Homo sapiens: one gene and its partners. The main gene of each other region encodes a partner of the protein of the gene in region 2 in a complex. Each region holds a gene or a part of one and is shown on either strand. Other genes may lie near its edges. The genes, in order: KLHL2, WNK4 and KLHL3.

What was found.
Region 1: the proteins of WNK4 (region 2) and KLHL2 are in contact, whole or in part, in a crystal structure (PDB 4CHB), measured with the Homo sapiens proteins. Residues at the interface, in NP_115763.2 of Homo sapiens: Glu557, Pro558, Glu559, Glu560, Pro561, Glu562, Ala563, Asp564, Gln565; in NP_009177.3 of Homo sapiens: Arg345, Phe361, Gly363, Ser364, Leu365, Arg366, Thr392, Phe408, Gly410, Ser411, Thr412, Gly413, Ser438, Ser439, Tyr455, Ser487, His504, Arg534, Tyr583.
Region 3: the proteins of WNK4 (region 2) and KLHL3 are in contact, whole or in part, in a crystal structure (PDB 4CH9), measured with the Homo sapiens proteins. Residues at the interface, in NP_115763.2 of Homo sapiens: Glu557, Pro558, Glu559, Glu560, Pro561, Glu562, Ala563, Asp564, Gln565; in NP_059111.2 of Homo sapiens: Arg339, Phe355, Gly357, Ser358, Leu359, Arg360, Thr386, Phe402, Gly404, Gly407, Ser432, Tyr449, Gly451, Ser481, His498, Arg528, Tyr577.

What each region holds. Positions count from the first base shown.
Region 1 is NC_000004.12:165,294,169-165,301,588, forward strand, and holds part of KLHL2 (kelch-like protein 2), read left to right. Parts: intron 1-190; coding exon 191-300; intron 301-3,440; coding exon 3,441-3,557; intron 3,558-5,338; coding exon 5,339-5,488; intron 5,489-7,420. UniProt on the Homo sapiens protein: Substrate-specific adapter of a BCR (BTB-CUL3-RBX1) E3 ubiquitin ligase complex that mediates the ubiquitination of target proteins, such as NPTXR, WNK1, WNK3 and WNK4, leading most often to their proteasomal degradation.
Region 2 is NC_000017.11:42,776,228-42,784,029, forward strand, and holds the start of WNK4 (serine/threonine-protein kinase WNK4), read left to right. Parts: upstream 1-4,382; 5' UTR 4,383-4,471; coding exon 4,472-5,089; intron 5,090-6,530; coding exon 6,531-6,703; intron 6,704-7,709; coding exon 7,710-7,802. Other genes in the region: VPS25 (vacuolar protein-sorting-associated protein 25), read left to right, coding at 18-93, 2,730-2,842. UniProt on the Homo sapiens protein: Serine/threonine-protein kinase component of the WNK4-SPAK/OSR1 kinase cascade, which acts as a key regulator of ion transport in the distal nephron and blood pressure.
Region 3 is NC_000005.10:137,732,804-137,741,068, forward strand, and holds the start of KLHL3 (kelch-like protein 3), read right to left. Parts: upstream 3,287-8,265; 5' UTR 2,844-3,286; coding exon 2,830-2,843; intron 1-2,829. UniProt on the Homo sapiens protein: Substrate-specific adapter of a BCR (BTB-CUL3-RBX1) E3 ubiquitin ligase complex that acts as a regulator of ion transport in the distal nephron.

The DNA of each region.
Region 1 (7,420 bases), on a different chromosome or scaffold from region 2:
TCACTGAAGGTACATCCCCAGGTGTCTCTGAGTTTGTTTGGGTTTGTCTTGTTAGTTCTTGCCTGGAGGTGTGCAATTGGTTTTCTCATTCTTAAGTTAGATTAAATTAAGAAAAACCTTTTTTAAGCAGTTTGAAACTATGATAATGGAATGTTGATGTTAGTGGATTTTCTTTTTAATTCCCAAACAGAGCAACATTTTGCAGATGTTGTACTTAGTGAAGAATTTCTCAATCTTGGCATCGAACAAGTGTGCAGCTTAATCTCAAGTGACAAACTTACCATTTCTTCAGAAGAGAAGGTAAGGATATTTTTCTTTTCCCAGTGTGCAATGATGTTTCCCTTTTTTTTTTTTTAATTTCACTTTTTTTTATAGCTTTGTGATCCTGTATGTGTAGTGACAGCCAGTGATGTTTCAACTGGAAGTTAAGAAACTCAGCTAGTTACTTCAGGAAAGGATTCCAGGAGAAAAAAAAGAAACTCAGGACTTGTTGATTGTCTATGTAAATTACTCCCGGTCTTCACTTTGTGGGAGGTTCCCTAAATTTTTAGCCACTACAGTTTTGTACTTGACCTCCACAGCAAGAGCTTGCACACATTAGACTATCTGAAACAAATGCTTTTTTGGAAACTAGTTTCTTCCTACAACTCAATGCCTGTAGGAATTATGATGTGAACATAATATTTGTCACTAAATTAGTTTCCTTGTCTTCTGAGTTGAAAGAGGTTACCTAGGATGGCGAAGTTTTGGTAGTTCTAGACTGAACATTCTTGATTGTCACCTTCCTTTAGATTGATTTCCTGTGACATAATACCTCACCCCTGCCAGTCCGTTCAGCCTGCCTGCCTCCCTGACTCTCTCCCTCCCTGCCTCCCTCCCTCTCTGTGCAGCTACTGCTTCTGGTTGTAGTCTTTTGTCTCTCCACGTTTTGAATTACCTTTGTCAGCCACCTGCACTTTTCGTATAGTTGGAGAGAGAAGCTCCTTTTAGTGGGCTGTTTTTCCTTGGGTGGGTTTTGTAGCACACGGGAATCAGAGCACAAAAGCTGTGCTTAGAGGAAATGAAACTTGAGTTTCTCCTTTGTGTGCTTAGCATTTCAAGTTGTGTAAATTCTGATTCTCTTTCTCAAGGCTATTCATTTCACCTGGGGTTAAAGACACATTTACTCTAATATTTACAGTATTAAAAAATGTGAAAGCATTTGTGACATATATAATCTTAGCATCCTAGAAATACAGAGGAAGATGACATTACTTTCACACTTAATAGACATGTATTGAGTGCCTTCCATGTACCAGACACTGCCATGGGCTCCTAGAGAAGAGAAGATTAGCAGAATAGAATTTGTTACTCATAGACTAGTGGGACAGCCAGTAGAGTAAATAATTGATTACAGAATGCTGTAAAGGGTGCCTTAGGAGCATTTAACTTTTCCAGGAATGGGATAGGTATGGGGATGGTAGTTCAACTTGGTTCAGATGTATATTTCAAGTCTTTTAAAAATGAGTCTGAGTTTGCCAGAGAAATAGGGATGGGTGGGAATGCAGAGGGCATTCCAGGTAGAAGAAGCAGAATATACAAATGTAAAGAGATATGAAAGAGTAATTGTATTCAATGTGTTCAGTATGATGGGAGTTTAGAATATGAGACATTGGTGGAAGATAAAATTAGAAGATGATATAATAAAATATCTTCTCAGCTATGTTAAAGAAAATTAACTGTATTGTAGTGATGAGCCTTAAAAGGGTTTTAAGCCAGAGGAGAAAACCATGCCAAAACCTGCATTATAGAAATATCATGAGGGCTGTTCTGGTTTTCTGCTGCTACTCAAGTCATTGCCAAATGTAAAAGCATAAACAATAACCATTTTATGCTAACAATTCTATGGTCAGAATTCATGCAGAACAATAGGGACAGCTTGTCTCTGCTCCACAGTGTCTGAGACCTCGGCTAAGGTGACCCAGATGCCTGGAGATACCTGGCATGGTTCTACTGGAGCCATAGATCTGGAGCTTCAGTTCTTCTGCACATGGCATCTTATGGGTCTGTAATGTCCAAGGTGGCTCCTCCACCTACTTTTGTCTGGCTCCGGGGCTCCCGGTTGATTGGTCTCTCTCTAGGTCTCCCTCCTCTCCCCTCCTTTCTTCTCTGTAACTTGCATGGGTTTCTCATGGTGTGGTGGTTTCAAGTAGCCAGACTTCTTACATGACATTTGGCTTCCTTCAAATGAGCATTTCAAGAGAGCAGAGTAGAAGTAGTGAGGCTGCTTAAGACCTACCTTCAGAAATTGCACAGTGTCCCTTCCTCCGCACTCTACTGGTTAACAGGGCCAGCTTAGATTCAGTGTGGAGGGTTACTATATAAGGGTATGGATCTGGGAGATGTGGTTTATTAGGAGGCTATCTTTGGAGACTAGCTATCTGGTGGTGGTGGGCAGTATGGACCAAAAATGAGGTGAGGGCCAGATGAGAGGATGTTGAAGTCATACCAGTGAGCAGCAGGTTCCGATATGGGATGATAGAAGCAGGGGGGAGAGAAGACAGAACTGAGAAATATTAGATAGAATTGCCAGAAGGCCGACTATCTTGTTCACCTAATCTCTGGCACCTGGCACGTAGAGACACTTGATAAATACTTGTTGACAGAATGAATTAAAGAGGGGTGTTAATTTTAATGTGCATTATTTTTAGTTTCTTGCTTTTTTTTTTCAAACTTTGCAAAATGTTTTACTACCTCCATTCTGTTCATTCTTGTTATTTATTTGCAGAAATCAATAAAAGGTTGCCAAAATGTAAGCTGATCCACAAAGTATGAGAGAATTAGTTTCTTGCTTTATTCCTGGATCAAAATAACCTATTTTTGGTCTCAGTTATCCAATTGCATATTGTCAAACATTTCCTGCAAACCTTTAAAGATTATTAAGTGATATATTCATCAGTTGAGAAGAAAATTATGTAGACAAACAGTGTCTTCATATTAGCTTATTAGCTTTCTCACAATTATGTATTGTAAAAAATAATGCCCTTATTTTTTAATTTGTAAAAAAAAATTTCAAAATACTACATTTTAATATATTCTGCTATTACAGAGCTGAGTCGATCTATTGTACAAACCTTCGATTTATGTGTATGGTCTAACATTTGTTTGTAAACCTGAAGAAAAAGCCAAACATGAATTGTTTATAAGGATACATGATTTTCATTCCAGAATATCACTTTGCTTTATTATTTTGGGTAAATAAAAAAAAAAAGAACAGAAAAGAAATGGGGTGAATGGCTTTGTAAGTACATTGCAAGTCAGGATTTTGAAAACACTTGAGCTGTGAATTAAACTTGGATGTCTTAGCAAGAGTTATATATAAAATGTAGTCTCATATTTTATCCAGATGCCTTGATACACAACTCATTTCTTATTTTTTCTTCTCCTATATTTTCTGCAAGGTATTTGAAGCAGTAATAGCATGGGTGAACCATGACAAGGATGTGAGGCAAGAGTTTATGGCCCGACTGATGGAACATGTACGGTTACCTTTGCTTCCTCGGGAATATTTAGTTCAGGTAAATGCATATGCAAAACATATGAATCCACACAGCACTGTGTCACTGGCCTGACAGCATGTAGATCCCTATCAAGCAGTGATAAGAGCTGTAGAATGCAGATCTGTGGAGTACAGGACAGAAGACAGTAAAGGACCCCGCAGGCTGGAGTGCAGTGGCGTCATCTCGGCTCTCCGCAACCTCCACCTCCCGGGCTCAAGTGATTCTTGTACCTCTGCCTACTGAGTAGCTGGGACTACAGGTGCATGCTACAACCCCAGCTAATTTTTGTATTTTCAGTAGAGTTGGGGTTTTGCCCTGTTGGCCAGGCTGGTCTCGAACTCCTGACCTCAAGTGATCTACCCGCCTCGGCCTCCCAAACTACTGGGATTACAGGCCTTGTGAGGCACCACACCCAGCCACCATTCCCCGTTCTTAGAAATTTGCTTTTGCCCCTATTTTTGATTTGGGTAAGCAAGTACTAGAGCTTATCAAGGTAGTATTTGTGGTCACTTAAATACATGTAAATAAATGTCCCTGTGGCAGTCACTGCTTTGCATCTTCTTTACTGTTTTTTTCTTTCCATAGTCTCTTCTGATTCCCCTGCAGACCTGGAATTTTGAGGTCTGACCCAAATACCGTTTAATTTTACTTCGTAATTTAATAGTGGCATGCATTTGATTTCTGTCTTTATTTCTAAGCTGAGGGAAAACATTATTTGAAATAAATGTGAAAAATGATTCTTTAGTGGTCTCCAAATAATTTTAAATTTACTGTTTTTTTTATTAGAATCCCGCTAGGAACATTTCAGCATTATTTTAATAATTGAAACCATTGAAAGAATCATTTATTAAGAAATTAGATTTGAACATTTTAGGATTTCTTGAAATCTCATTACTTTTTGTGATCTGTGTAATCATGGGTCTTCTGGTATTAAGAAGATGATCCAAAAGGGTGGGTGCGGTCAGTGGCTCACGTCTATAATCCCAGCACTTAGGGAGGCGGAGGCAGGCATGAGGCCAGGAGTTCGAGACCAGCCTGGCTAACGTGGTGAATCCCCGTCTCTACTAAAAATACAAAAAATTAGCCAGACATGGTGGCAGGTGCCTGTAGTCCCAGCTACTCAAGAAGGTGAGGGAGGAGAATTGCTGGAACCCGGCAGGTGGAGTTTGCCAGGATTGTACCACTGAACTCCAGCCCGGGCAACAGAGTGAGACTCTGTTCCCTTCCCCCCGCCCCCCCTCCCCCCCCAGAAAAAAGAAAACGAACCCAGAAGCCTGTCCTGCGTTTGAGGTCAGGCTAGGCAGTACAAGATTTATTTGTGTTATGGGTACGTTGCTTTAAGGTATTTCTAATCTCTTTTTGGGATATTTTACTTGCCCACTTGTGTTTGAAAAAGGTATCATTAACTTATTAGTATTGTCTTCACCTGAAGGATGTATTATCTAAACTTTGTTTCTTGTTTTGCTTACTTTTTGTCTTAAAGGTTAAAGATACACAGGTGGATATAATATCCGAAGAGTTCATCATATTCCATAGCTAACATTGAAGTTTATCATTTTTCACTGTGGTTCTTCTTTTTATTACCTATATATGTTTTTCTCTGCAGGCCAGATACTTGAGCATTTTTTGGTTATATTTATTTTTCTCTTAGATGTATTTATAAACTTTCCTCGTTTATTTTTAGACTAAACTAAAGGATATAGTTACTGCTTTTTTCCTCTCCTTTACTTCTTTTTCTTTGGCAATTTAATTATGAAATAGCCCTACCCTCAGTGGGTGTGTCTGATTTCTTGTTACAGAGGGTTGAAGAGGAAGCATTGGTCAAGAATAGCAGTGCTTGCAAAGATTACCTCATTGAAGCAATGAAGTACCATTTGCTGCCAACAGAGCAGCGTATATTAATGAAGAGTGTCCGGACCCGGCTGAGGACACCCATGAACCTTCCCAAAGTAGGATCTGTTTCTCATGCTTGTTATTACCTCATGCAAAAGGCTTATAAGTGAAGCTGTTAGTATTTTGCTCATTTGAATTTCCGTGATTTATTGTTTTAGTTTTCCTTCAAGAGAAAATGTGCCTAAGAATGCATTGTAGTGTATGTAATTCAACCTCTATTGATTTTATATGTTAAGGGTGGGGATTCTTTGGTCCGTTTAATTTTTATAAACTGCATGATGTCACTCTTCTGGAACAGAAGACAACTGGTTTTTGTCCCCTCTGAGTTTTATTAGCTCTAATTATAGTAGAAAGCTCTAATTATAGTCCAAAAAAATCAGACCAGGTAGAAGGATTTCTCTGTAGGCCTGGGGTGCTGTGATTCATGCCTGTAATCCCAGCACTTTGTGAGACTGAGGCCAGTGGATCACCTGAGGTCAGGAGTTTGAGACCAGCCTGGCCATCTACGTGAAACCGTGTCTCTACTAAAAATACAAAAATTAGCCACGTGTGGTGGCAGGTGCCTGTAATCTCTGCTACTCAGGAGGCTGAGGCAGAGAATCACCTGAACCCAGGAGGCGGAGGTTGCAGTGAGCTGAGTGGAGTGCCCACTGCACTCCAGTCTGGGCAACAATGTGACAGGCTCTGTCTCAAAAAAAGAAAAAAAAAAAAAAAGAATTATTTTGTAAGCTAGGTGTTTGTTTAATAACTGAAAACCCAGTAGTTTCACAGAATTACACATTAGAACTACAGATGATAAAAATAGCTTGTTCAGTTCATCTCATTGCTGTTCCCTGCTGTATACCATTTGATGGTTCCCTGCACATCATATGTAGCCATTTCAGCATACATTCCCATGTCTTCCCGTGTGTCTCGTGTTCATATTTTCCTATGTGAATGTTTATATTCTACCTTGGTCTTTTTAGCTGTGGCCATTCATATTTTACCAATTCAATTTTTCTTATGAAATAACCCCTCATTTCTGTCTCTGTTGGCAATTCCTTCTGCTCTGTTTACATCTTTATAGTACGACCAATACTTTAAGCACCATTTTGTGCGTGGTCTAATCAGAATGACTCATAATATAAAGACTTTATTTATGTATTTATTTTTAACTCTTGTATATGTTTCGGGCAATGCTGGATTAAGAAATAAGAATCTGTTCTCTCGTTTTCTTATATCATCTTCAGTTATTACTCTGTCCTTTCCATTGAATTGTTTTTTAAATTCTTTCACTTTAATACTTTAATATTTTTCTAAGTTTTACTTTGGAGTCTACATTTTTAATTGCTGCAAATCTATATTGGTATTGTTTTTCTGTTTTGCCTATTACTAACAACAGTTCTCAATTTATAACTAACTGCAGATTTGCCAGGATGCTGTTGACTTATTTTTCTAGATCGTTAGCAAATATTTTAATTTAGAATTGATCTCAAAACTCTCTTGGTGGCACCTTGTTAGAAGTAGCCAGCCACTGACACAGTCTATTTGTGGAAAGTTTCATTCTATATGATTATTATCTAAGCCAAAATAAGTAGTTTGGCATATAACATCTGATGAGGTTGAGGATCAAATGGATTCAAATTTGGCATGACTTTTTAAACATTCTTCTGCATGGTATTTTATTGGCCCCTAGAAGTTCAAATGCTTTTCTCAAAATCTTCTAAATTTTTACTCAGAATTATCATCACTTAACAAAGTGTATTTACAAGGTATTCACTTCCTATCCTGGTTTGAAAATTTGGTATTTGCTTTCTTTAAATTTTCTGATCTATCCTCAGTTCTCTGAGATTTTTCAGAAATAATTGTAAGTGGCTCAGTAAGTACATTAGCTAGTTCCCTTAATACCTCAGTATTCATGCCAGGTCTGCTGATTTTATATGTGTTTACATTTTTCAAATACCCTTACACCTGCTTTTATAAGTACCCATCTTTTAAGTCTTCATTAA
Region 2 (7,802 bases):
ATTTTCTGTATTCACAGGTTTCCAGGAGTGGCCAGAACAACTCCGTCTTTACCCTGTATGAACTGACTAATGGGGAAGACACAGAGGATGAGGGTAATGCCTTTCCCTTCCCACTCATAGTTAATTTTTTGTTTTGTTTTGTTTTGTTTTTCCGATATGGAGTCTTGCTCTGTCACCCAGGCTGGAGTGCAATGTTGCAATCTCGGCTCACTGCAACCTCCGCCTCCTAGGTTGAAGCGATTCTCCTGCCTCAGCTTCCTGAGTAGCTGGGATTACAGGTGTGCGCCACCACGCCTGGCTAATTTTTTGTATTTTTAGTAGAGATGGGGTTTCACCATGTTAGCCAGGTTGTTCTTAAACTCCTAACCTCGTGATCCGCCTGCCTTGGCCTCCCAAAGTGCTGGGATTAGAGGCGTGAGCCACTGTGCCCCGCCTGTTTTTTTTTTTTTTTTTTTGAGACAGAGTCACTGTATCCCAGGCTGGAGTGCAGTGGCGCAGTCTCTGCTCACTGCAACCTCCGCCTCCTATGTTCAAGCGATTCTAAGTTCTTAACCCATGTCCAAGGATTCCATAAGCCACCTGAATTCACATGCAAAAAATCCCAAATTTTGTTTTTGTGGATGCATGTGCATTTTTCTAGGGATAGATTAGATATTACAAGATTTCCAAGGGCATCTATGACCCATGAAAAGTTAAGAATTTCACTTTCAGCTGGGCACAGTGGCTCGTGCCTGTAATCCTAGCACTTTGGGAGGCTAAGGTGGGAGGATTGCTTGAGGTCAGGAGTTTGAGACCAGCCTGGGCAACACAGGGAGATCCTGTCTCTACAAAAAATTTAAAAATCAGCTGGGCATGGTGCTGTGCACCAGTAGTCTCAGTTACTCAGAAGGCTTAGGTGGGAGGATCACTTGAGCCCAGGAGGTCAAGGCTGCAGTGAGCTATGATCACGCCACTGCACTCCAGCCTGGGCAACAGAGCGAGATGCTATCTTAAAAAATAACAATAGGCCGGGTGCAGTGGCTCACGCCTGTAATCCCAGCACTTTGGGAGGCCGAGGCAGGTGGGTCACCTGAGGTCAGGAGTTCCAGACCAGCCTGGCCAACATAGTGAAACCCCGTCTCTACTAAAAATACAAAAATTAGCCGGGCATGGTGGTGCATGCTTGTAATCTGAGCTACTTGGGAGGCTGCAGCAGGAGGATCGCTTGAACCCGAAGGCAGAGGTTGCAGTAAGCCAAGATCGCACCACTGCACTCTAGTCTGGATGACAGAGCGAGACTCCGTCTCAGAAAATAAAAATAATAACAATAAAAAAAATTATAAATAACTTTCTTCATTCAGCATCTGCTATAGATGCCGAATGAGAAACAAGGGCAGGGGATTAAGCTTGAAATCTCATTCCTTGCTGACTCAGGCTCTCTTTCACCCTTTATTCTTATAGAGGGCTCAAGATCTGTGGGTGTCAGCTGAAGAGATTAGGCCAACACCCCCAGCCCATTTATATACTTTGGTTTCTGGCCAGGCAAGGATTTGTATAGTGTTTGATTTTTACATAGCGTAAACACTCTTAGTTCTTTTTCTCCGACTCCAGATTCTGATCCTCTGGATCACCACAAGTTTCGATCTTAGCTGGGATAACAGAGGGTGTCTCCCCTTTCTGCCAGGCCCTGGCTGCCCTAGCAGAGTTTATAGCTCTTGGCTGTTCCCCCTGCTGCCCTGCAGGTCTCTGCTTGCTACTCCCACCATCACCCCATGATTTCAGCACTGTAGCCTTGCCTAGCCCACCACTCAGGTTGGGCAAAGTTGTAGGTTTCCTCAGAAAGCAAGCTCCCTGACTTAGCTGAGCCCCCACAGGGGGTGAGGTAAGCAAGCCTGTCAGGGCTTGCCTGCTGCCTCCCACATCTCCCTGCAGTATCTTACCATATCTCCACATACTCAGCTAGCCATAGGCTCCCCAATTTTTTTGGTTTTTTTTTTGAGACAAAGTCTTGCTCTGTCCCCCAAGCTGGAGTGCAGTTGCACGATCTTGACACTGCAACCTCCACCTCCCGGGTTCAAGTGATTCTTCTGCCTCAGCCTCCTGAGTAGCTGGGATTACAAGTGACCACCACCATGCCCAGCTAATTTTTTGTAATTTTAGTAGAGACAGGGTTTCTCCATGTTGGCCAGGGTGGTCTAGAACTCCTGATCTCAAGTGACCCTCCCACCTCAGCCTTCCAAAGTTCTGGGATTACAGGCGTGAGCCACCGCGCCTGGCCTGTGCTCCCAGCTAAAAGCTAGAAAAAGGGCAGATAATAGTGCTGGAGTTTAACAGTCTCCTGGCCAGGGGTACTGGCTATATTCTTTGTGTTAGGATAGATCCTCTAGGGTCAGTGTCTAGTGACAATGGCTCCGATCTCCCTAGGCCTGATTTTCACGGCCCCTTTGTGGCCCTGAAGCAGATGGTGTCATTCTCGTGCATCAGACACAAATGCTAGGTGTGGGGGAGGCTGAGTCTGAGAGGAGAACCAAGAAGGGGGAAATAAGCACAAACTCATTTCATGCTGATTCAGGCTTTCTTCCACCCCTTACTCCTAAGGAGTGCCTGGGAAGTGTGGATGGCAGCTGTAGCAGTATAGATGGCTTATGCATACCCTGCCTCTGGGAGGTCTCGGCTTCCAGCCAGAGCACTCTCCTCAGAGGCCTTGGGCCTCAGGAGCTGATTGTCTCTGCCTATCTCTCCCTGTTCAGAGTTCCACGGGCTGGATGAAGCCACTCTACTGCGGGCTCTGCAGGCCCTACAGCAGGAGCACAAGGCCGAGATCATCACTGTCAGCGATGGCCGAGGCGTCAAGTTCTTCTAGCAGGGACCTGTCTCCCTTTACTTCTTACCTCCCACCTTTCCAGGGCTTTCAAAAGGAGACAGACCCAGTGTCCCCCAAAGACTGGATCTGTGACTCCACCAGACTCAAAAGGACTCCAGTCCTGAAGGCTGGGACCTGGGGATGGGTTTCTCACACCCCATATGTCTGTCCCTTGGATAGGGTGAGGCTGAAGCACCAGGGAGAAAATATGTGCTTCTTCTCGCCCTACCTCCTTTCCCATCCTAGACTGTCCTTGAGCCAGGGTCTGTAAACCTGACACTTTATATGTGTTCACACATGTAAGTACATACACACATGCGCCTGCAGCACATGCTTCTGTCTCCTCCTCCTCCCACCCCTTTAGCTGCTGTTGCCTCCCTTCTCAGGCTGGTGCTGGATCCTTCCTAGGGGATGGGGGAAGCCCTGGCTGCAGGCAGCCTTCCAGGCAATATGAAGATAGGAGGCCCACGGGCCTGGCAGTGAGAGGTGTGGCCCCACACCGATTTATGATATTAAAATCTCAACTCCCACTGCCTGCCTCTTAAATTACTACAGTACTGGAATGGGGATGGGGAGGGCTGTGAAGTGTTGCCACCTGAGTAAATCCCAGCCTGGGAGAGGGGAGAGAAAAGAAAGCTTATGGCTTTTGTAGAAGAAAAGGTCCTCCAGGGCCCTGTGGGCTCCAGTGAGCCTGTGGTTTTACATCTGCTGGGTGGGCTGTGTGGAGGAGTGCTGATGGAACACAGCTTGGGGACAGACTGCTTTCTCTCTGAATTGGAGTCACTTAAGGGCTCCCCCTTCCCTCACCATCTCCCTCATGGAAGTCCTGAACTACTCTGAAGCCCCTCCCTCCACCCATCTGGTCTGGGTGGGGTAACTGTGGCCAAGGGGAGCTGAGGGGGGTAAGCCGGATGTGGACTTTGGTTTATTGGAGACTGGCAAACAGAAGGGGAGGAAGGAGAGCCCATATAGCAAAAACAGCCACTCTGGCCAGGGTTAGGCTGCGGCCAAGGTGGCCTGGAGGGGATGGATGACCGGGCTCTCGGTTTGGGGGAGGGACTTATCCTGGGGAGTACACACCCATTCCCTATGCAGACCAGAGGGACAACAACGTCAGACCTTTCCACTGACCTCTCCGTTCGGCCTGGGGCTACTCCGGACAGTTAGGAGGGGGTGGTGCTGCCTTATCTGGGGTGTGCAGGAGGGTGGTAGCCTCCCCCTAAGTAATCCCCCACTAGGGTCCGGGTGTCGTTCTCTCCTGCCCTCCTCCGCGCACAAACAGGTTTGCTCACTCTTAGTGCGGGAGGATGCTCCGCGGTCTCCCACTCAGTTCTGGCCTCAGAGTGAGACTGCGGCCGGGGGCTCGGGAAAGAAGGGGACGCGGCTGGGCGGGGCGGTGACTAAGGTGAGGGGCTGCTCGCGGGATCCGCACCGCGGGAGCAGCTCGGAGGGGCGGCCCTGGGGGGCAAGGGCGGGCCGCGGGGCGGCGACGGGGGCGGGGCCAGGCCGAGCTGGGGGCTGGGGCCGCAGCCGCTCAGCCGGAGCGCAGCGCACCCAGCGAGTCCGTCTGTCAGGCCGCCTCCTCTCCGGCCGTCTGATTTTCTACCCTTCGGCGCCCTGCTCTTCCTCATGTTGGCATCCCCGGCCACGGAGACCACCGTCCTCATGTCCCAGACTGAGGCCGACCTGGCCCTGCGGCCCCCGCCTCCTCTTGGCACCGCGGGGCAGCCCCGCCTCGGGCCCCCTCCTCGCCGAGCGCGCCGCTTCTCCGGGAAGGCTGAGCCCCGGCCGCGCTCTTCTCGTCTCAGCCGCCGTAGCTCAGTCGACTTGGGGCTGCTGAGCTCTTGGTCCCTGCCAGCCTCACCCGCTCCGGACCCCCCCGATCCTCCGGACTCCGCTGGTCCTGGCCCCGCGAGGAGCCCACCGCCTAGCTCCAAAGAACCCCCCGAGGGCACGTGGACCGAGGGAGCCCCTGTGAAGGCTGCGGAAGACTCCGCGCGTCCCGAGCTCCCGGACTCTGCAGTGGGCCCGGGGTCCAGGGAGCCGCTAAGGGTCCCTGAAGCTGTGGCCCTAGAGCGGCGGCGGGAGCAGGAAGAAAAGGAGGACATGGAGACCCAGGCTGTGGCAACGTCCCCCGATGGCCGATACCTCAAGTTTGACATCGAGATTGGACGTGGCTCCTTCAAGACGGTGTATCGAGGGCTAGACACCGACACCACAGTGGAGGTGGCCTGGTGTGAGCTGCAGGTGCGGCTGGGAGCCCCCTCGGTGGCACCTTGGGATGGGACTCTGGAGGTCTTAGGATGACAGACAGAGGGTGGGGGAGACAGCATCAAGGGAAGCATGTATTTTTCCAGTCAAATGTCTATAGACACCTCTGCTGTCTTTGCCCTGAATGATCTGGCTGACTCTGGGCTGCAGAAGGAGAGATTGAGGCAGGTGGTGTCTGGTGACTCCCCCATGGGTATGAACATTCTCACTTTAAAGTCTCCATACTCAACCCTGAGAGGTGGAAAATAGGATGGGAAGTTAGGCAGGGGAGCCAGTTCAGGTCAGTTTCCTGCTGGTGGGTACCCGCAATCCCTTCCTCTCCCCTAAGTCCTGAGATCCTCAGTTATGACCCTGGTCCTCTTGATCCCCTCACTCCTCCCGTCCCCCACCTATTTGCAGACCAGGAGGCTGGGATGCGGGAAGCCAGGAGCTGGGCAAGGGTCATCTCCAACTCCAGAAGATTTAGGGCAGTTGTGGCAGAATAGGGCCCCCTAACCCCTTCTGGAGCAGTCAGACTTCTGGACTTCTCCACAGCTGCGAGGAGGGGGACATAGGGAGCTCCAGCTCTCGAGTGAGTCCAGTTCTGCTCCTCATCCCACTGCCTACCTGTGCTCTCCCTTCCCAGACCTAAAGGCACTAAGCCCATGGGCTTTAGGGGGACCTTCCTCCCATTGCTCCCATGCTACATATGGGTTAGGAGAACCCAGTCAACTTGGGGCCTGAAGCTTCCGATTCAGATCAGGGGACAGAGCCTAGGGGAAGGGTCCCTCTCCAGCCCTGGCACAGGGCTCGCCCCTTGCGCCTGCCAGTGCCGCGCCCCAGGCTCTGGGCCAGGCCAGGAGAGGCAGCCAAATTGGGGGGTGAGGGGAGGGAGAGGAGCCGGGGCGGGACGACTATGGGGGTGGGCAGCCTCCTGGCGCCTAGTCCTGGATCTTTTCTTTCCTTCTCAGTACCTCCCTCCATATCCCTCCCGCCTTCCGTCTGGATCTAGCAGTTCTGTTTCTGGGGCCAACCCCCTTGCCGGCCCCAATTCCCTGCCCGCAGTATCCTGCTGCCCGCCTGCTGCCTGCTCACTGCCAGCCCCCGGGTGCCCCCTCCCGCCCCATGGCCGGCCTGGGCAGCCACAAAGGCACTATTGAGCTCAGGGCTCTGGGACCGGGCTGCATAAAGGTGCTTGTGTCCAGCAGGGGGTCTAGGGGGCTGCCCCAGGCCCAGGTTGGGTGTGTCCTTGGATCAGCTTACGTGCGGGACTGTTGGAGAGTTCAGGGTCTGCAGCCCACTGGGCAAGTAATCCCATTAACCCCACCCCATCTGTGGGCTCCAACCCTCACCTCTTCCCCCAACCCCACTCCAGGTGTCCCTCTTCCTTTCTGTGGGTGTCCTGGGCCTGACATGACACCCGTCCCCCATCCCACAGACTCGGAAACTGTCTAGAGCTGAGCGGCAGCGCTTCTCAGAGGAGGTGGAGATGCTCAAGGGGCTGCAGCACCCCAACATCGTCCGCTTCTATGATTCGTGGAAGTCGGTGCTGAGGGGCCAGGTTTGCATCGTGCTGGTCACCGAACTCATGACCTCGGGCACGCTCAAGACGTGAGCTCTGCGCATGAGTGGGTGGGGAGAGGGAGGCTGGGATGTGTGCCCACTGCTTCCTGAACTCCCAGGCTCCTCAAACTCTCTAATATCCAGGTGTAAAACCAGGTTCACCATCTCCCTCTCACCCAACCTTTGTCCCTGCCTCGGTGAGTGGCAATGTCCACCCAGCACTCCAGTAAAATACTTGGGTGTCTCCCCAGACTCCTCTTTCTCCACTCTGCCCCCTCATCAGTCTGTCCCCAAGTCTTTCCTTAACCTCTCCCCACCTGGCTTTCACTGCTTCATCCATGCCACCACCTCAATGCCATCTCGCTGATCTGGAGCCCTGCAGCAGCCTCCTAAAGGGCCTTCCCAAACTCTGCCACCCTCTAAGCGATCCTATCTTCCTGCAGCCTGGAGAATCTTTCCCAGTTGAAAATCTGAACTGTCACTCCCCTCCTTAAAACCCCTTCAAAGTTTCTCATGGCCTTGGAATAAAGCCCACACAGGCTCACCTGTTCACAAAGTCCTTAGGATACAGCCTCACTTTCAGCCTAAGCTCCAGACACACCAAATTCCTGGCACCTCCTCCCACCCTGCCTTGTCACTGGCTTTTTCTGTGCCTTTGAGCACGGTGTCCTGTCTGCCTGGGAAGTCTCCATCCCTTCCCCCTTTCACCTTTGAGCTCCTACTCATCATTCAAGATGCAACACAAAAGTATTTCCTCTCCGAAGCTCTCCCTCATGCTTGGGGCAGTTAGTCATCCCTTCCTGCGCTCCCACAGCACCTTGGCCGAGGCCCTATCTATCAATTTACTTCCCAACCCGTTTGGTAACGTCATGTCTATCCACCATGCCCCCTGACTCAGTTTCTCCCTGGGGCCGGGCAGACATAGGCTAGGAGAATGCTGGCAGAAGATGCGGAGGCGGCAGCAGGGTGCGGCAGGGGGGAACTTCCCAGTGGGGGGCTCCTTCCCGGAGGACGTGTCCCCCCACCAGGACTCTGGCTATGCGCCCTCCCCCAGGTACCTGAGGCGGTTCCGGGAGATGAAGCCGCGGGTCCTTCAGCGCTGGAGCCGCCAAATCCTGCGGGGACTTCATTTCCTACACTCCCGGGT
Region 3 (8,265 bases), on a different chromosome or scaffold from region 2:
ATTTAATCTTCACAACAGCTCTATGAAGTGTAAGTACTGTTATTATTCCCTTTACACAGAAGAGAAAAATTAGTTCTGAAAAAAATGTGACACACTCAAGGTCACACTGTTTGTAAAGCAGATTCACCGCTAGGTCTATGTTACTCCAAAGTCCATGCTTTTAATTAATAGCCTTTCAAGGTAGAAAGTATTTTCATACCCTCATGGCAAAGAAAAAAAAAATTGTTCATTAGCAATCCCTTGGTTGAAATTTTGTAATGCTTAAAAACAGCCCCGATTAAGATTCAGCAGGTTAAGTGTGGAATGAGCACCAGATTGAGGATCCCTCCAGTCTCTGGAGGTTGGACATGTGATCCTAGGCGAGTCACTCAGCTTCTCTGGACCTCAATTTCCCAGGGAACTTGTAAAACAAGGCTACTTCCCTCTGTTCTCCCCCTACCTCAAAGCATTCCTTGAAGTCAGTTACCCGTGCTAAGATAATAAGGCTGATATCCAAAGATGAGGCTATTGGCCAAAGGCTTCAGTCTCTTCTTTCACCAACTTTCTTTTTAGTTATCAGAGCCTCACACAAAAGTTATTAGCTAATCAGCTAATAACTATTCAGCACCTGCTATTTGTGTACCCATGCAGTAGTCAATGGGGGTATTTAGAAGTACAAGGCACCAGCCTTGCCCTTGAGGACCTGTCTCCAAGTCTGGGGACTGCTAAGATATATGAAATAAAAGCACTGAAAGATCTGGTGGGCCTATTATTCAGTGTCCAACTATGAGATACAAACCAGAGGTATTAGAATTCCGAAGAACATCAGCCAGGACTAGAAAAGCTGAGTTTCCAAGATAAAGTAGAATTTTAGAATAACCTTGATAGATAGATAACTTTTGCAAAATTGGAAGGGAAAGACATCCAGCAAAAGAAACTCTGGGAGCTAAGGATATGAGGCTAGATGGAGTAATGTATAGGATGGGTGATCATGAAAGAGATCAACAGAATTCTCAGTAGGTATATGAGTGAGCAGTGGAAATGGGAACAGGAGTTAGAGTTCAGAAGACTTGAACGCGTGGCATGGTAAGCTGGACTTGGAGCAGGAACAAAAGGTATGACCTGGGTGACCTGGTGAACATTGGAAGCTGCTCGGTTTGGATTTCTTGTCTACCATCTGCCTTCAGCAGAGGAAAAGTACAAGAACATGTGCAACCTGGTGTTCTAAAGCCATAGACATCAGCCATCCCAGCTGAGAGGCCCCAGGACAGGGGCAAGGACTCACTATATTTCTGAACACAGAACTGGGAACACAGTGCCCAAAACTGTTTGATCCGCTGCTGGTAGTCTCACACTGACCTCTCAACCCCAGTTACACCACAGGTCAAGCAAATAGGCATGGCCCAGAATCTCTAAACCTTCATCGCATCAACCCCATTCTCTGCCACCTACCAGATCAATGGGACACTGTTTTGGGGACCAAAGACACTGCTCACCTCTGCCCCACACTTAGGAAATAGGCCTTCATATTCTGCTGCTCAGCAGGCCTCACAGAGTTCAACACTAAACTCCTGTTGCAAAGAGCACCCAGAAAGAGAATGCACCAGCAGCACAGTCAGTCCCAGGCTCTTCCTGTGGGAGTCATCAAGAAACACAGTTCCCAGGGCCTCTACAGACAAAAGAATGACACCCAATCATCATGCTAGTTCTAATAGGGTCTAGAGATGTTTAATGGCATCACTGTGCCCCGTGAGACACAGAAGTCACAACAACTCATGAAAAGGAAAGTGTTCATTGAGATACTCTCTAGTGTTGACTTAGTTGAGCCTATTATTGTTAACCAGATGGTTACTGTCTGCATCAAACTGGCAATCTGGAGCAGCAGGCTTCCCCTCAGTGGTGCACTGCCATGGCCGGACCCCTCCCTGCAGTCTTCTCTCCTCAGATAAAATGGCAAGCCTCGTACTCTACCAACTGCAGACCAAAGAATGAAGAGGTTGGCACTCAAGAGATATTTTACTTCATAGACAGAGGAATGTCACCTCTGCACTGCGCTGAGCACCTTCACAATGAAAGATTCAGATCTTCAGATAACAATTTAAAAATTTAGATGTGTGTGCCTGCCAGGATCTAACTGCCTCGCTAGTTAGATCCAGCTCAACAAAAGTACTTAAAATCTTTTCTGCTGGTTCCTATTTCAAAAGAAATCCCTGATGGAGGAAGCACAGACCTTCCAGTATCACTCATAAACTTTTCAATACAAATATGAAACTCAGTTCAGAGCAAGTATCATCTGACTGGGTTTCTCTCCTTCATCCCTGAATGTGTGTGTATACAGGCATACACGGCGTGCACGCGCGCACACACACAGCCATCAGCATGGCATGCTTGCTGAAGATTCAAGCACTCCTGCGTGAAAATGCAAGTACACTATGTCAGGTCAGCCCCACTATGACATCAAAAACCCCCCACCAAAGAAAAAACACCCCGGGAAAGGAGCCAGGAAAGGGAAACGCCTCCTTGAAACAGCCTGAGAAAGGCAATCTGATTCAGCCTGTGCTGAAACTATTCCCGAACACCAGCCAGGAAGTCCCTTCTTTCAGGGTGCTCCGCTGCCTAGCAAACCCAGACCTGCCTTTGCGGAAGCCAGATCTCTGGAGATTCAAGCCCTGGAACGGGTGATTTGGAAAGCGGCTTTCCTGCTCTTGTTCTGGCGCCCTTTAAGATCCATCAGTGGCCAGGTCTTCCAACTCTGCCTAGCCAATGCAAACACAAAAGCTGGTGGCTGCACCGCAAGCACACATACACTTACATACACACACAACACAGCACACACTTATACATACATACCTTTCACCCTCCATTGTGTGAGGCCCAGCCAGGGTGGTAGCTGCTGAACTGTGTATGCACTCGGGGATCCTAGTTCTGTTCTTGATTCTCCCAGCAGACCAGTGGGAAATCTGATCAGCAACAGTGATTCAGCATGGCTGCAAGTGAAGCCTCCTCCCTTCTCAATCCTCCTTCCTCTGACTTACTCGCAGCAGCTTCTACCGCAAAAGCAGCAGCAACAGAAAATGTCTTACCCAGAGCTCCCTGCAGCCCTTTCAGCTGCTAAAAGCAGCAACCCACTTGCTCCCCCTCCCCCGCAGGCTTGCTGCTCCTTGGTCTCCTAGGAACGGCGGCAGCTCCAGCGACCCAGGTGCACTGCCACCTTTCCAGCTTCCTCTGCATCTGCCCAGGCATCCCCAGCCCAGGCGATTAGCCCGCCCCTGGGGCTCCTGCCTCCTCTGTCTAGGCTGCAAAGAATCAGGCAGTTCGTCACTAGCCCGAGAAATACTGGCCCCTACACCCTCCCCTGCTCCCATAGGCTATGAGTCTGTCAGCCTGGCCAGATTGCTGGAATGAGGAGGCCCCTCTGTGGCCTGCAGTGGAGTTTATCATCCACCTGGGGAAATTCACTTGTAGGTCACAGTTTATGTTCCAAATCCTCCTCCCAAATTCTGTAGTAGCTCTGAGTGTCTGATAGATGGGGAGAAGTTAAGGGAAAAGCACCTGACAGAAGTGAGAAAAACACAGAGAGAAATTAAGAGAATACAGAGAGAAATTGGAAAACTAGTCGAAAAAGAGAGGTAGTACAAATAGGTGAAACTGAAACAAACCCTATTTTACTGCAAGAGGCCAAAGACTACTGCAGTAAAGCTATCACAATGAATACTAAAATATCTTAGCACAATCCTAAAATATCTTCCTAAAATCTGTCATATTGGAATTTAACTTAAGCAGTGGCTCCAACTAGTAAGTCTCCCACTGAACCCCCATATCCAGCCAAAGATCTTTCACATCCTGTAATCTCCAGCTGCTGAGCTTCAATTTAGACTAATTTAACTCTCCCTGCCTGAAATGCCTTCTCCAATCCCAGTCCTTTAGTCTTTCTGGGAGTCCAGTCAAATCCCATGTCTTCATAAAACCTTCCCTAATCACACCAATGACAGTCAATCACCACCAAAATACACAAACTATACTTTCCTGTATCGTCATCTCACACCTAATATACAGTCTTGGCTAATTCATTATTTATAAATCTTCTTTCCCAAACTAAAACATAATCTTGTGGAAGGCATGAGGCCAGTCTGTATATCCTAGCCACAGAGGCTTAGAGGTAACTGGGACAATTAGCTGCAAAAAGTGGTGCAGAAGCTATCCTAATGCCTCAGAAAAAAATCAGCTATGAGCATCTCTCTTCTGGGACACCTCATGGCACCCCTGGGCTTTTCCGAATCCACACCAGCACTCACTGGGTGAGTGACTTTCCTGAGTAGTGTTCTCCACACTCTGGACCTCATGCTCAGCTACTCATTCACAATATAGGGTCAGACCAGACAATCTTTAGAGTCCCTTTCAGCTCCAAGATCACAGGATTCTAAAAATGTTTTAAATGGTCCGTTTTTCTTCTCAGAGTAATCCGTGTGATTGTTTAAGAAGAAATACTAGGCTCCAATGTGTTGTAGGGGGCTTCAAGGAGGATAACATGATGTAGGTGAAAGTACGAAGAGACGCTCAGTAAATCTATCATCCTTATCATTTTAACCTGTTAAATTTCTTCACTACTACAAAGCCCTAAAACCACAGAAGGAAGAGAGGAACACTGAGGTGACAGAAAGTAAAAGTAACTAAAACTTTATATAGCCTCCTGAACTCAAACTGGCTACAGGGTTATTCTCAAAGATTACCTCCCCTGGCACCTCAGTGTTCTCTTAGACAAGGCCATTACTCACACTCACTCTTTCTCAAGTGAGAAGAGGCCTGGATAATTTCATTTACACCCCACAGGGCTGTATCTTCACTTCTTCCTTGCACAACAATACCCCTCATATCTTGTTCCCTCTATGTCCCTTCCTCCTCTAATCAGCCTTGTGGCCCTGCTCCAGATATTTCCTCTTGAGGCCAATCACAGGGACCACAAAAAGCTGAACATCACAAATAAGGAAACTGAATCTCGGAATCCGTGCCAGAGTTCAGACATCCACCAGGAACACAACTGGGTGATTCATAAAAGGGACATAAGAAAGAGATGACTCCTCCTTTGCACATACCCACGTTTACATATTCGCCATACAGGAAGGTGTGGAAATGCCACATCTAACAAACCAGACAAAGAAAAAAGATCAGAAAAGGAAATATGTAAGGGTTGTATGTATTCAAGTTTCAAAATATAACTATTAAGAGCCAGTATAAAACCCTGCTAAATTTCCCTGCAAAACCATACGACTACACCTTCATACTTTATTCACCACTCATGATTCACAGGAGGTAGACAGAATAGAGAACACTCAGAAGAGGCCATTTAGAAAAGAAAGGTCATCTTAAGCAAAAAGAACAAAACTGGAGGCACCACATTAACTGACTTCAAACTATACTACAAGGCTACAGTAACCAAAACAGTATGGTATTGGTACAAAAACAGACACATAGACCAATGGAACAGAAAAGAGAACCCAGAAATAAAGCTGTTCACCTACAACCAACTGATTTTCGACAAAGTCAACAAAAATAAGCAATGGGGAAAGGACTTCAATAAATGATGCTGGGATAACTGGCTATCCATATGCAGAAGAAACTGGACCCTATCACCATATATAAAAATTAACTCAGGCACAGTGGCTCATACCTGTAATCCCAACACTTTGGGAGGCCAAGGCGGGCAGATCACCTGAGGTCAAGAGTTTGAGACCAGCCTGGCCAACCTGGTAAAACCCCATCTTTACTAAAAATACTACAATTAGCCAGGTGTGGTGGCATGTGCCTGTAGTCTCAGCTACTTGGGAGCCCGAGGCAGGAGGATCACTTGAACCTGGGAGGCAGAGGTTATAGTGAGCCAAGACTGCACCACTGCACTCCAGCCTGGGTGACAGAGCAAGACTCTGTCTCAAAAAATAAAATAAAATAAACCCAAGATGGAGTAAACAATTAAATGTAAGACCTAAAACTATTTAAAAAAGGAAAAAAACCTAGGAAATACCCTTCTAGCAATGCAGCAAAAGCAAAAATTGACAAGTAAGACCTAATTAAACTAAAGAGCTTCGTATAGCAAAAGAAACTATCAACAGAGTAAACAGACAATGTACGGAATAGGAGAAAATATTCATAAACTGCATCTGACAAAGGTCTAATATGCAGAATCTATAAGGAATTTAATTCAACAAGCAAAAAACATGTAAACCCATTTTTAAAAGTGGGCAATGGACATGAACAGACGTTTCTCAAAAGAAGACATACAAACAGCCAACAAACATGAAAAAATGCTCATCGTCACTACTCACCAGAGAAATGCAAATCAAAACCACAATGAGATACCATCTCACACCAGTCAAAATGACCATTATTAAAAAGTCTAAAAATAACAGATGTTGTCAAGGCTGTGGAGGAAAGGGAATGCTTATACACTGCTGGTGAATGTAAATTAGTTCAGCTACTATGGAAGGCAGTCTGGAGATTTCTCAAAGAACTAAAAATAGAACCACCATTCGACCCAGCAATCCCATTACTAGGTATATGCTCAAAAGAAAATAAACCATTCTGCCAAAAAGGCACATGCACTTGTATGTTCATCGCAGCACTATTCAAAATAGCAAAGACAAAAAATCAAGTTAGGTGCCCATCAATGGTGGACTGAATAAAGAATGTGTGGTATATATATACCAAGGAATACTACACAGTCATAAAAAAAGAATAAAATCATGTCCTCTGTGGCAACATGAAAGCAGCGAGAGGCCATTATCCTATGTGAATTAGTGCAGAAATAGAAAACCAAATGTCACACATTCTCAGTTATAAGTGGGAGCTAAACATTGGGTACATATGGACATGAAGATGGGAACAATAGATACTGGGGACTACTAGAGGATGGAGGGAGGGAAAAGGGGTTATATGATTTGGATGTTGGTAGCCTCCAAATCTCATGCTGGAATGTAATCCTCAGTGTTAGAGTTGGAGATAGGGCCTAGTGGGAGGTGCTTGGGTCATAGGGGCAGATCACTCATAATAGTTTCACACTGTCCCCATAATAAAGAGTTTTCACTCTGAGTTCACTCGAGATCTGGTTGTTTAAAAGTGTGTGGCACCTTCCTCCTCACTCTCTTGCCTCTGCTCTCATCACGTGATATACCAGCTCCCCCTTTGCCTTCCACCACAATTGTAAGCTTCCTGAGGCCTCCCCGGAAGCAGATGCCAGCACGCTTCCTGTACAGCCTGCAGAGCCATGAGGCAATTAAACCTCTTTTCTTTATAAATTACCAAGCCTCAGGTATTTCTTTATAACAACACAATAACCACCTAATACAAGGAGCAAGCCTAAAAAGGTAGTTGAAAAGCTACCTATTGGGTACCATGCTCATTACCTAGGTGACAGGATCATTCATACCCCAAACCTCAGCATCATGCAAGATACCCATGTAACAAACCTGTACATGTACCCCTCGATCTAAAATTAAAGATGAAATTTAGGAAAAAAAAAAAAAAGGAAGAAAGGTTATCTAGCAAAACCAGGGGCAGAGCTGAGTCAAGAAGCAAAGTCTCCAGACTCCTGGCACAAAGTTCCTACCCCCAATATTTTCCAGTTTCAGAAACACATTTTACATTTTCTACCTTATTATCCAAATGTTCTCTGGACCACAGTCTGAACCTGTTTGCTCTATGCTAATTTTCCTGACTGGACTTCAGATTAAGGACAGTTGCTATTGGAGTCCTGCAGTAGAGGAGAGTCAAAATAATCAATGTGGTATCTGTCTGGAGAAAAAGGTCCCATCCTCAGATTGCTCAGCAATAATAGTGTCTTAGTCCAGCAGGCCCCAACCTTTTTGGCACCAGGGACCAGTTTCATGGAAGGCAACTTTTCCAAGGATGGGGGTGGGGGGTCAGGGGGGATGATGGTTTCAGGATGAAACTGTTCCACCTCAGATCATCAGGCATTAGATAGCTTCTCAAGGAGCGCACAACCTAGATCCCTTGCACACACAGTTCACAATAGGGTTCATGCTCCTAGGAGAATCTAATGCCACTGCTGAGCTGACAGGAGACAGAGGTCAGGTGGTCATGCTCGCTTGCCGGCTGCTCACCTCCTGCTGTGCATCCCAATTCTTAACAGGCCATGGACCAGTACCAGTCTGTGACCTAGGGACCACTGTCTTAGCCCAGTCCTTCCCACACCCCAGCCTTCTTCTACAGCTTATCAAAAGTCCCTAGTGGCCCCAGATCTCTACCCCAAAGCAATGTATTCAGCCATCTACA